Linked DNA regions of Homo sapiens: region 1 is linked to region 2. The links come from fine-mapping of genetic effects on gene expression. A gene starts in region 2. The other region holds a variant in brackets. All regions are shown on one strand. Distances are between the middles of the regions.

Region 1 (4,389 bases), 160 kb after region 2:
ACACCACACCTATTCCAAAATTGACCACATACTTGGAAGTAAAGCTCTCCTCAGCAAATGTAAAAGAACAGAGATTATAACAAACTACCTCTCAGACCACAGTGCAATCAAACTAGAACTCAGGATTAAGAATCTCACTCAAAACCGCTCAACTACATGGAAACTGAACAACCTGCTCCTGAATGACTACTGGATACATAACAAAATGAAGGCAGAAATAAAGATGTTCTTTGAAACCAACGAGAACAAAGACACAACATACCAGAATCTCTGGGACACATTCAAAGCAGTGTGTAGAGGGAAATTTATAGCACTAAATGCCCACAAGAGAAAGCAGGAAAGATCCAAAATTGACACCCTAACATCACAATTAAAAGAACTAGAAAAGCAAGAGCAAACACATTCAAAAGCTAGCAGAAGGCAAGAAATAATTAAAATCAGAGCAGAACTGAATGAAATAGAGACACAAAAAACCCTTCAAAAAATTAATGAATCCAGGAGCTGGTTTTTTGAGAGGATCAACAAAATTGATAGACCGCTAGCAAGACTAATAAAGAAAAAAAGAGATAAAAATCAAATAGACACAATAAAAAATGATAAAGGGGATATCACCACCAATCCCACAGAAATACAAACTACCATCAGAGAATACTACAAACACCTCTACGCAAATAAACTAGAAAATCTAGAAGAAATGGATAAATTCCTTGACACATACACTCTCCCAAGACTAAACCAGGAAGAAGTTGAATCCCTGAATAGACCAATAACAGGAGCTGAAATTGTGGCAATAATCAATAGCTTACCAACCAAAAAGAGTCCAGGACCAGATGGATTCACAGCCGAATTCTACCAGAGGTACAAGGAGGAACTGGTACCATTCCTTCTGAAACTATTCCAATCAATAGAAAAAGAGAGAATCCTCCCTAACTCATTTTATGAGGCCAGCATCATCCTGATACCAAAGCTGGGCAGAGACACAACCAAAAAAGAGAATTTTAGACCAATATCCTTTATGAACATTGATGCAAAAATCCTCAATAAAATACTAGCAAACCGAATCCAGCAGCACATCAAAAAGCTTATCCACCATGATCAAGTGGGTTTCATCCCTGGGATGCAAGGCTGGTTCAATATATGCAAATCAATAAATGTTATCCAGCATATAAACAGAACCAAAGACAAAAACCACACGATTATCTCAATAGATGCAGAAAGGGCCTTTGACAAAATTCAACAACCCTCATGCTAAAAACTCTCAATAAATTAGGTATTGATGGGACGTATCTCAAAATAATAAGAGCTATCTATGACAAACCCACAGCCAATATCATACTGCATGGGCAAAAACTGGAAGCATTCCCTTTGAAAACTGGCACAAGACAGGGATGCCCTCTCTCACCACTCCTATTCAATATAGTGTTGGAAGTTCTGGCCAGGGCAATTAGGCAGGAGAAGGAAATAAAGGGTATTCAATTAGGAAAAGAGGAAGTCAAATTGTCCTTGTTTGTAGACGACATGATTGTATATCTAGAAAACCCCATTGTCTCAGCCCAAAATCTCCTTAAGCTGATAAGCAACTTCAGCAAAGTCTCAGGATACAAAATCAATGTACAAAAATCACAAGCATTCTTATACACCAACAACAGACAAACAGAGAGCCAAATCATGAGTGAACTCCCATTCACAATTGCTTCAAAGAGAATAAAATACCTAGGAATCCAAATTACAAGGGATGTGAAGGACCTCTTCAAGGAGAACTACAAACCACTGGTCAACGAAATAAGAGGATACAAACAAATGGAAGAACATTCCATGCTCATGGGTAGGAAGAATCAATATCGTGAAAATGGCCATACTGCCCAAGGTAATTTACAGATTCAATGCCATCCCCATCAAGCTACCAATGCCTTTCTTCACAGAATTGGAAAAAACTACTTTAAAGTTCATATAGAACCAAAAAAGAGCCCACATTGCCAAGTCAATCCTAAGCCAAAAGAACAAAGCTGGAGGCATCATGCTACCTGACTTCAAACTATACTACAAGGCTACAGTAACCAAAACAGCATGGTACTGGTACCAAAACAGAGATATAGACCAATGAAACAGAACAGAGCCCTCAGAAATAACGCC[A/G]CATATCTACAACTATCTGATCTTTGACAAACCTGACAAAAACAAAAAATGGGGAAAGGATTCCCTATTTAATAAATGGTGCTGGGAAAACTGGCTAGCCATATGTAGAAAGCTGAAACTGGATCCCTTCCTTACACCTTATACAAAAATCAATTCAAGATGGATTAAAGACTTAAACGTTAGACCTAAAACCATAAAAACCCTAGAAGAAAACCTAGGCATTACCATTCAGGACATAGGCATGGGCAAGGACTTCATGTCTAAAACACCAAAAGCAATGGCAACAAAAGCCAAAATTGACAAATGGGATCTAATTAAAGAGCTTCTGCACAGCAAAAGAAACTACCATCAGAGTGAACAGGCAACCTACAAAATGGGAGAAAATTTTCGCAACCTACTCATCTGACAAAGGGCTAATATCCAGAATCTACAAAGAACTCAAACAAATTTACAAGAAAAAAACAACCCCATCAAAAAGTGGGAGGACATGAACAGACACTTCTCAAAAGAAGACATTTATGCAGCCAAAAAACACATGGAAAAATGCTCACCATCACTGGCCATCAGAGAAATGCAAATCAAACCACAATGAGATACCATCTCACACCAGTTAGAATGGCAATCGTTCAAAAGTCAGGAAACAACAGGTGCTGGAGAGGATGTGGAGAAGTAGGAACACTTTTACACTGTTGGTGGGACTGTAAACTAGTTCAACCATTGTGGAAGTCAGTGTGGCGATTCCTCAGGGATCTAGAACTAGAAATACCATTTGACCCACCCATCCCATTACTGGGTATATACCCAAAGGACTATAAATCATGCTGCTATAAAGACACACGCACATGTATGTTTATTGCGGCATTATTCACAATAGCAAAGACTTGGAACCAACCCAAATGTCCAACAATGATAGACTGGATTGAGAAAATGTGGCACAGATACACCATGGAATACTATGCAGCCATAAAAAATGATGAGTTCACGTCCTTCGTAGGGACATGGATGAAACTGGAAATCATCATTCTCAGTAAACTATCGCAAAAACAAAAAACCAAACACCGCATATTCTCACTCATAGGTGGGAATTGAACAATGAGAACACATGGACACAGGAAGGGGAACATCACACTCTGGGGACTGTTGTGGGGTGGGGTGAGGGGGGAGGGATAGCATTGGGAGATATACCTAATGCTACATGACGAGTTAGTGGGTGCAGCGCATCAGCATGGCACATGTATACATATGTAACTAACCTGCACATTGTGCACATGTACCCTAAAACTTAAAAAAAACAAAGAAAAACAAATCTCTTCAACTAAGATGACTGTAATTCCACCATTAAAGGCCTACTTTAATGAAAAAAAAAAAAAAAAAGAAAACGTGGTATGAACCATGGAATACTATGCAGCCATAAAAAAGAATGAAATGATGCCCTTTGCAGCAACATTGATGCACCTGGAGGCCATTATCCTAAGTGAACTAATGCAGAAATAAAACCAAACATTGCATGTTCTTATAAGTGGGAGCTTAACAATGGGTACTCATGGACATAAGGAGGAGAACAGTAGACACTGGGGACTGCTAGAGGCGGGAGAGAGGGACAAGGAAAAGGGCTGAGAATCTACCTATTAGGGATTGTGCTCATTACCAGGGGGATGGGTTCAGTCATACCCCAAACCTCAGAGTCATGCAATAGGCCTCTGTAACAATCCTGCACGTGTACCCCTGGATTCTAAAATAAAAGTTGAAAAAGAAAAAAAAAGAAGAATTGGTTAGGAGAATAAGCATTTTATCAATTGAAAATAAACTTGAAAGGGATCCTTAATATTTTGCCCACTCAGGGTAAACCTTCACTGCACTAACAATTTTCAGCTAAAGGCCCTAACTAAATTCTGCCACCTGGGCAAACTCTAGTCCGATGATATTCAAAGAAATTAAACCATTTTAAAAACTTAAAAAAAAAAACAAAAAACTAAGCCTTTTGATGCTACAACAAGATAACATTATGGAAGCCCTGCAGCCTAGTTCAACAGGCACTGCTGAGAGCTCACTGCAGTCATAAATAGAGGTGATTCGGTTTGCACAATGTCTTTCTGCTGGTCAGGCCCCTCCTTTCCTTTGTTTCTCCCTCCTGGCCAGTGAGACTCATTCCCCTGCCTCCACTCTGTCCCCTCTGGCCTAATCCACACACAGTTGCCACTTGGCCTTCCTGGAGGCACAGCTCCAACCACAGACCTGATCTGCTCAGACACCGGC
Region 2 (4,389 bases):
AAGAATAGGGAGAAACCTATCTACTCCATCTTCCTGGAAGCGGAAGTCAGGGGCCACTATAAGGCATTGAAACAATTACAAACAAAAATGCGTGGCAAAGACTCAGGGAGGAGTTGCAGTGCCTTTCAAACAAGGGCATCAGGAGGGCAATCAAATGAAGAAAGCTAACCAGCCATAGGCAGGAACTGCATTTGCCAGTACAATAATATCTGCAAGCACCTTCAAACAGTAAGAATTACTTAAAAATTCATAACGCTTCTTTAAAATCATGGAAACCTATGAAAATTCCTTAGTTTATGAATCAATGTAGGGCTTCTTGGAGGAGACATTGTTGGAGAAGACAATGCAGGGCTTCTTGGAGGAGACACAGTTGAAAGACCAATTGCAGTTCAGGAGTTAATTATAGAAACCTGTAGTGCTGGAGGAAGAAAAAGAAAAAGAAACCTGTAGGCCCACATTTGTTGCCTGCAGGAGATCTATTCCAGCTAAAACCTGACGAAACCAGGAAGAGAGGCACAGGTGGGAAATGCTCCAGAAACTAATTTACCCCTAGTAGGGGTGGGGACCCAAATCTAGGAGAAGGTCTAATTGTTGAAATGAGTTTTTTCTCCCTCCCTCCCTTCGTCCCTTTCCTTCCTTCTTTTCATTTAGTGTTGGGTAGAGGGTTGGGGTGGAGTGATGGTCAAAGAAGGGCATTAACTTCCTCCCAGTTACAGATAGGGACCTTGCACTCTGTACAAGTTTTTAAGTTTTTGGAAACGTTGCCAGCATGCCCAGAAACATGAAAAGAGCCCAGATGGAAATGATCCAATTCCTTTGCTTTCAACTCCATGGGTTACTGAGTTGAAAAAAAGGTCAAAGTCAAATTTTGTTGATTGTGCTACTTAGATTGGGGTTCGCATTTCCCTAGCTACTCCATACACATTCTCTTTCCTGCTGTATTGCCATTCTCCAAAGGCTATAGTCTTGCTTTGGTGTGGTCATGGCTTCCAACCCTTTGGTGGAGTCAGTGGAGATGAGAAGGCCTGCAATTACCCCCAAGGGGTTTACAGACTCAAATATGTACACTAAGCATTGACAGAAGAATGACTAAATGTCTGTCTCTCTGCACCGCGCAGTGGCTCACGCCTGTAATAACCAGCACTTTGGGAGGCCGAGGCGGGCGGATCACTTGACGCCAGGAGTTTGAGACCAGCCTAGGCAAAATGGCGACACCCCGCCTCTACTCAAAGTGCCAAAAAAATTAGCCGGGTGTGGTGGCGCACGCAGGCCTATAGTCCCACCTCACCTACTCCGGAGGCTGAAGCAGGAGAATCACTTGAACCCGGGAGGCGGAGATTGCAGTGAGCCGAGATCGCGCCACTGCACTCCAGCCTGGGTGACAGAGAGACTCCGTCTCCAAAAAAAAAAAAGGTCTTTCTAATACACATACATATACTACTACTTTCTGGATTTTATATTTAGTTTTGCTTACAAAATGGATTTAGGGTGTAGAATTTTCAAAGATTAGAGAAATATGCCTTGAAATAGAAAGTGCAAGTTTCTAGTAACTCTTCCCTTCAAAGATAATGTTACCAACTTCTTTTCCTACTATTTTTAGTATTGAGAAACTGTTGTGTTAAGTAAAATCAAATGAATTTAAAAGTTATTACACACATGGTAGCTTTCTGAGTGTTTTTCAAGCTGCGAGTCAGTTTTGTCCTTTTTAACACGCAGCGGTTGTGGGGACAAGGTTTCCGAGGAGGCGGGAGCGAGCGACGGCCCCCGCCTCCCACACGCCCTCTGCTTTGGTAAACAAGGAGACTCCCGCCCGCAGGCTGTAAATGAGGCACGAGCTTGGGGGCAGCGCCAGGGCGCCTGGCGTCACTGTTCAAAAAGGCCTCTTATTGGTCCTTCGCACAGCTGCGGACCTGGGAATTCTGATTGGTCTGCTTCCCTGTCCGTAAAGGGATTGACAGGCCCTGCCGCGTCAGGCCGCTCCTCTCGGCTCCGCGCTCCTTCCCTCGCGCGTGGGCACCCGCCCCCGAGCGGTGAGAGCGCGTGCGCGCGCGCCCTTCTCCGTGGGCGAGCCAGCCAGTCCCGCTGCACACGCTCGCAGTCTGTGGGCCCTCCGGGAGGCGGCGGAGGTCACCGCGGGGAGAGGGGCGGGCGCAGCATGGCAGCCTCCTTACGGCTCCTCGGAGCTGCCTCCGGTCTCCGGTACTGGAGCCGGCGGCTGCGGCCGGCAGCCGGCAGCTTTGCAGCGGGTAAGGACCTCACGCCTCCTCCCCCTTGTCCTTCTTTCGGCCGCTCGCTTCTTCTGTCCAGACGGCCGAAGAAGTCTTTTCTCGGGAGGCCCTGCGGTTGGGCTGGGGCTTAAAAAACAATATTTTGGCTGGTACTAAAGGCCTGTCCTTTTCTGCGGCCGCCACTCACTCCGCGAGTACCCCCCTCTGCCTTCCCTCCCTTTCTCCCGGGCTCCTGATGAACGGGTTCAGCGCCCTTTTCGGGATTTAGGAAGAGGTGGGGAAGAGCTTGGGCTGAAGAGAAGAGAGTATTTGGGACCCCGGCATGCTGCTTTGGAGTTAGGACTCCGAGGACGTTTGGAGCGCCCAACTCCAGGAGCAACCCGCACTCACCCCAGCGACCCCTGGTCTTTCAGCGCCCCCAGGGTGCACCTTGGGTTGGGGACACACTTGGGCAGCAGGGCCTGATGTTTAACCACCTGAGTCCGAGGGGATGGCCTTATTACACAAGCGGTGGCTGTACAAGCCAGGCAGTAAGTCTTTCAGCAAAGTTTCAGTCACCCTTGACCAGCAAGACGGGCTTCCCCCCTCTACTGTAACCTAAAAAAATGTCATTTTTGTCAAATTATGAACCAAAACACGTTCAGCGTCCTCAAGATTGTGGGCAGAATTAATCCTGCCTCCCTCCTCTCATACCATGGTAAATTGTGGAAGCTAGCCATGAACTTACAAAGAGGCAGTTTTTAGAGCCAGGATGAAGATCCACGGAGATCTAATACAGTCTTTCATACTCCGCACGAGGGACATGAGGCCCCTTGGATGAGTGAATCAGGATATTCCCAGCAAGACCTAGAAAGTTGTTATCAGTTGTTCCTAATTCCTTAACTTTCTATCACACCAGGACTCCTCTTTAATTGAAAAATTGGTTGATTTGTGGGGGCACTGCCGTTGTCTTCCTCAAACTGAAAGTTTGAGAGTTGTAACAATGCATCGTTTAGCAAGATCATACTGAGGATTAATAACAAAAAAAACCTTGGCATTAATTTTTTCTAATCTTTGCTTAAAAAAAAAATAGTGGGTTAGGATTTGAGCCCCTTGGCCCCCCGCCCTTTTTTTTTTTTTTTTTTTTTTTTGAGACAGGGTCTCTGTCGCCCAGGCTGGAGTGCAGTGGCCCAGTCACACTGCTCACTGCAGTCTCGACCTCCTGGGCTCAGGTGATCCTCCCACCTCAGCCTCCCGAGTAGCTGGGATTACAGGCATGTGCCACCACGCCCGTCCAATTTTTGTATTTTTAGTAGGGACGGAGTTTCGCCATGTTGCCCAGGCTGGTCTTGAACTCCTGCGCTCAAGTGATCCTCCCAAAGCGTTGGGATTATAGGCATGAACCACTGTGGCTGGCCAGGAATTGTAAGAACTTTCTCTTACAATTCTTAACAGCTTCCCATTCTCCCCCTCAGTGAAACCTCTGAATTTCCTTTCTGGCTGGAGAAGAACAGAGGCTCGGTGAGATGCAAGAGACCAGATGTCTGATACAGAACCACAGTAACAAGATAAAAACTCAGAATATGCCAAACTTGAATGTAACCACTGTTTGAGCTTCATATATTGAGCTACAAAAATGCTTCCGACTTTTGAGATAACCCTAAAAGAATAGACACTTTTCCACAGTAGCACCAGTTTTCACATGAATTCACAATTCTTTCAGTTCCCATTAGCCAAGGAAGACATATTTGCTGTTTAGTGGTTTTACAAGGTGTTCTAATGGTATTTTAATGAACCCTTGATGTACCTTTTAGAGTTATGAAAGTTCTTACCAATTCATGGTGAAAGAGCCTGAGGCCTAAGACTGTAATACGTGCCTCTGTAAACTGGGAGGGCCTACCTCAGAGTGCTGATTAGACTACTTTGGCATATGGTCTTGTACTTTGGGTTCTTTGGCCCAAAGGTAATTGTCAGAATATAGATTTCTGATAAATTTTAAATAGTTCTTTTGTGATGAAGTGGTTAAATCACTTAAGCAATTTTTTTTTCTCTTGAAAAAAATTTTTTTTTTTCCCTCGGAGTCTTTGTCTGTCGCCCAGGCTAGAGTGCATTGGCGCAATCTCAGCTCACTGCAAGCTCCGCCTCCCAGGTTCACGCCATTCTCCTGCCTCAGCCTCCGGAG

Direction of the effects. Alleles are on the strand shown, and positions count from the first base shown. SD is a standard deviation of normalised expression in the study named.
With allele A in place of G in region 1, the expression in adrenal gland of the gene that starts at base 2,061 in region 2 is higher (small effect, 0.25 SD a copy in GTEx).

The links. PIP is the estimated chance that this variant, and not a neighbour inherited with it, causes the effect.
Region 1: its variant is the best candidate, but not a certain one, in a credible set for the expression of HIBADH in adrenal gland (GTEx, PIP 0.83).

What each region holds. Positions count from the first base shown.
Region 1 is chr7:27,501,240-27,505,628 of GRCh38, reverse strand. No RefSeq gene overlaps it. Among named protein-coding and RNA genes, the nearest start is that of TSL, 110 kb to the left of the region's middle. The variant A/G (reference allele first, on the strand shown) is at 2,134.
Region 2 is chr7:27,660,555-27,664,943 of GRCh38, reverse strand. It overlaps HIBADH (3-hydroxyisobutyrate dehydrogenase), which reads left to right and starts at 2,061. Exons shown (of 8, transcript NM_152740.4): 1 at 2,061-2,246. The coding sequence starts at 2,156. The region is part of intron 2 of LOC105375211 (a long non-coding RNA gene); the gene reads right to left. RefSeq lists a silencer at 1,872-2,291 and an enhancer at 1,507-2,324.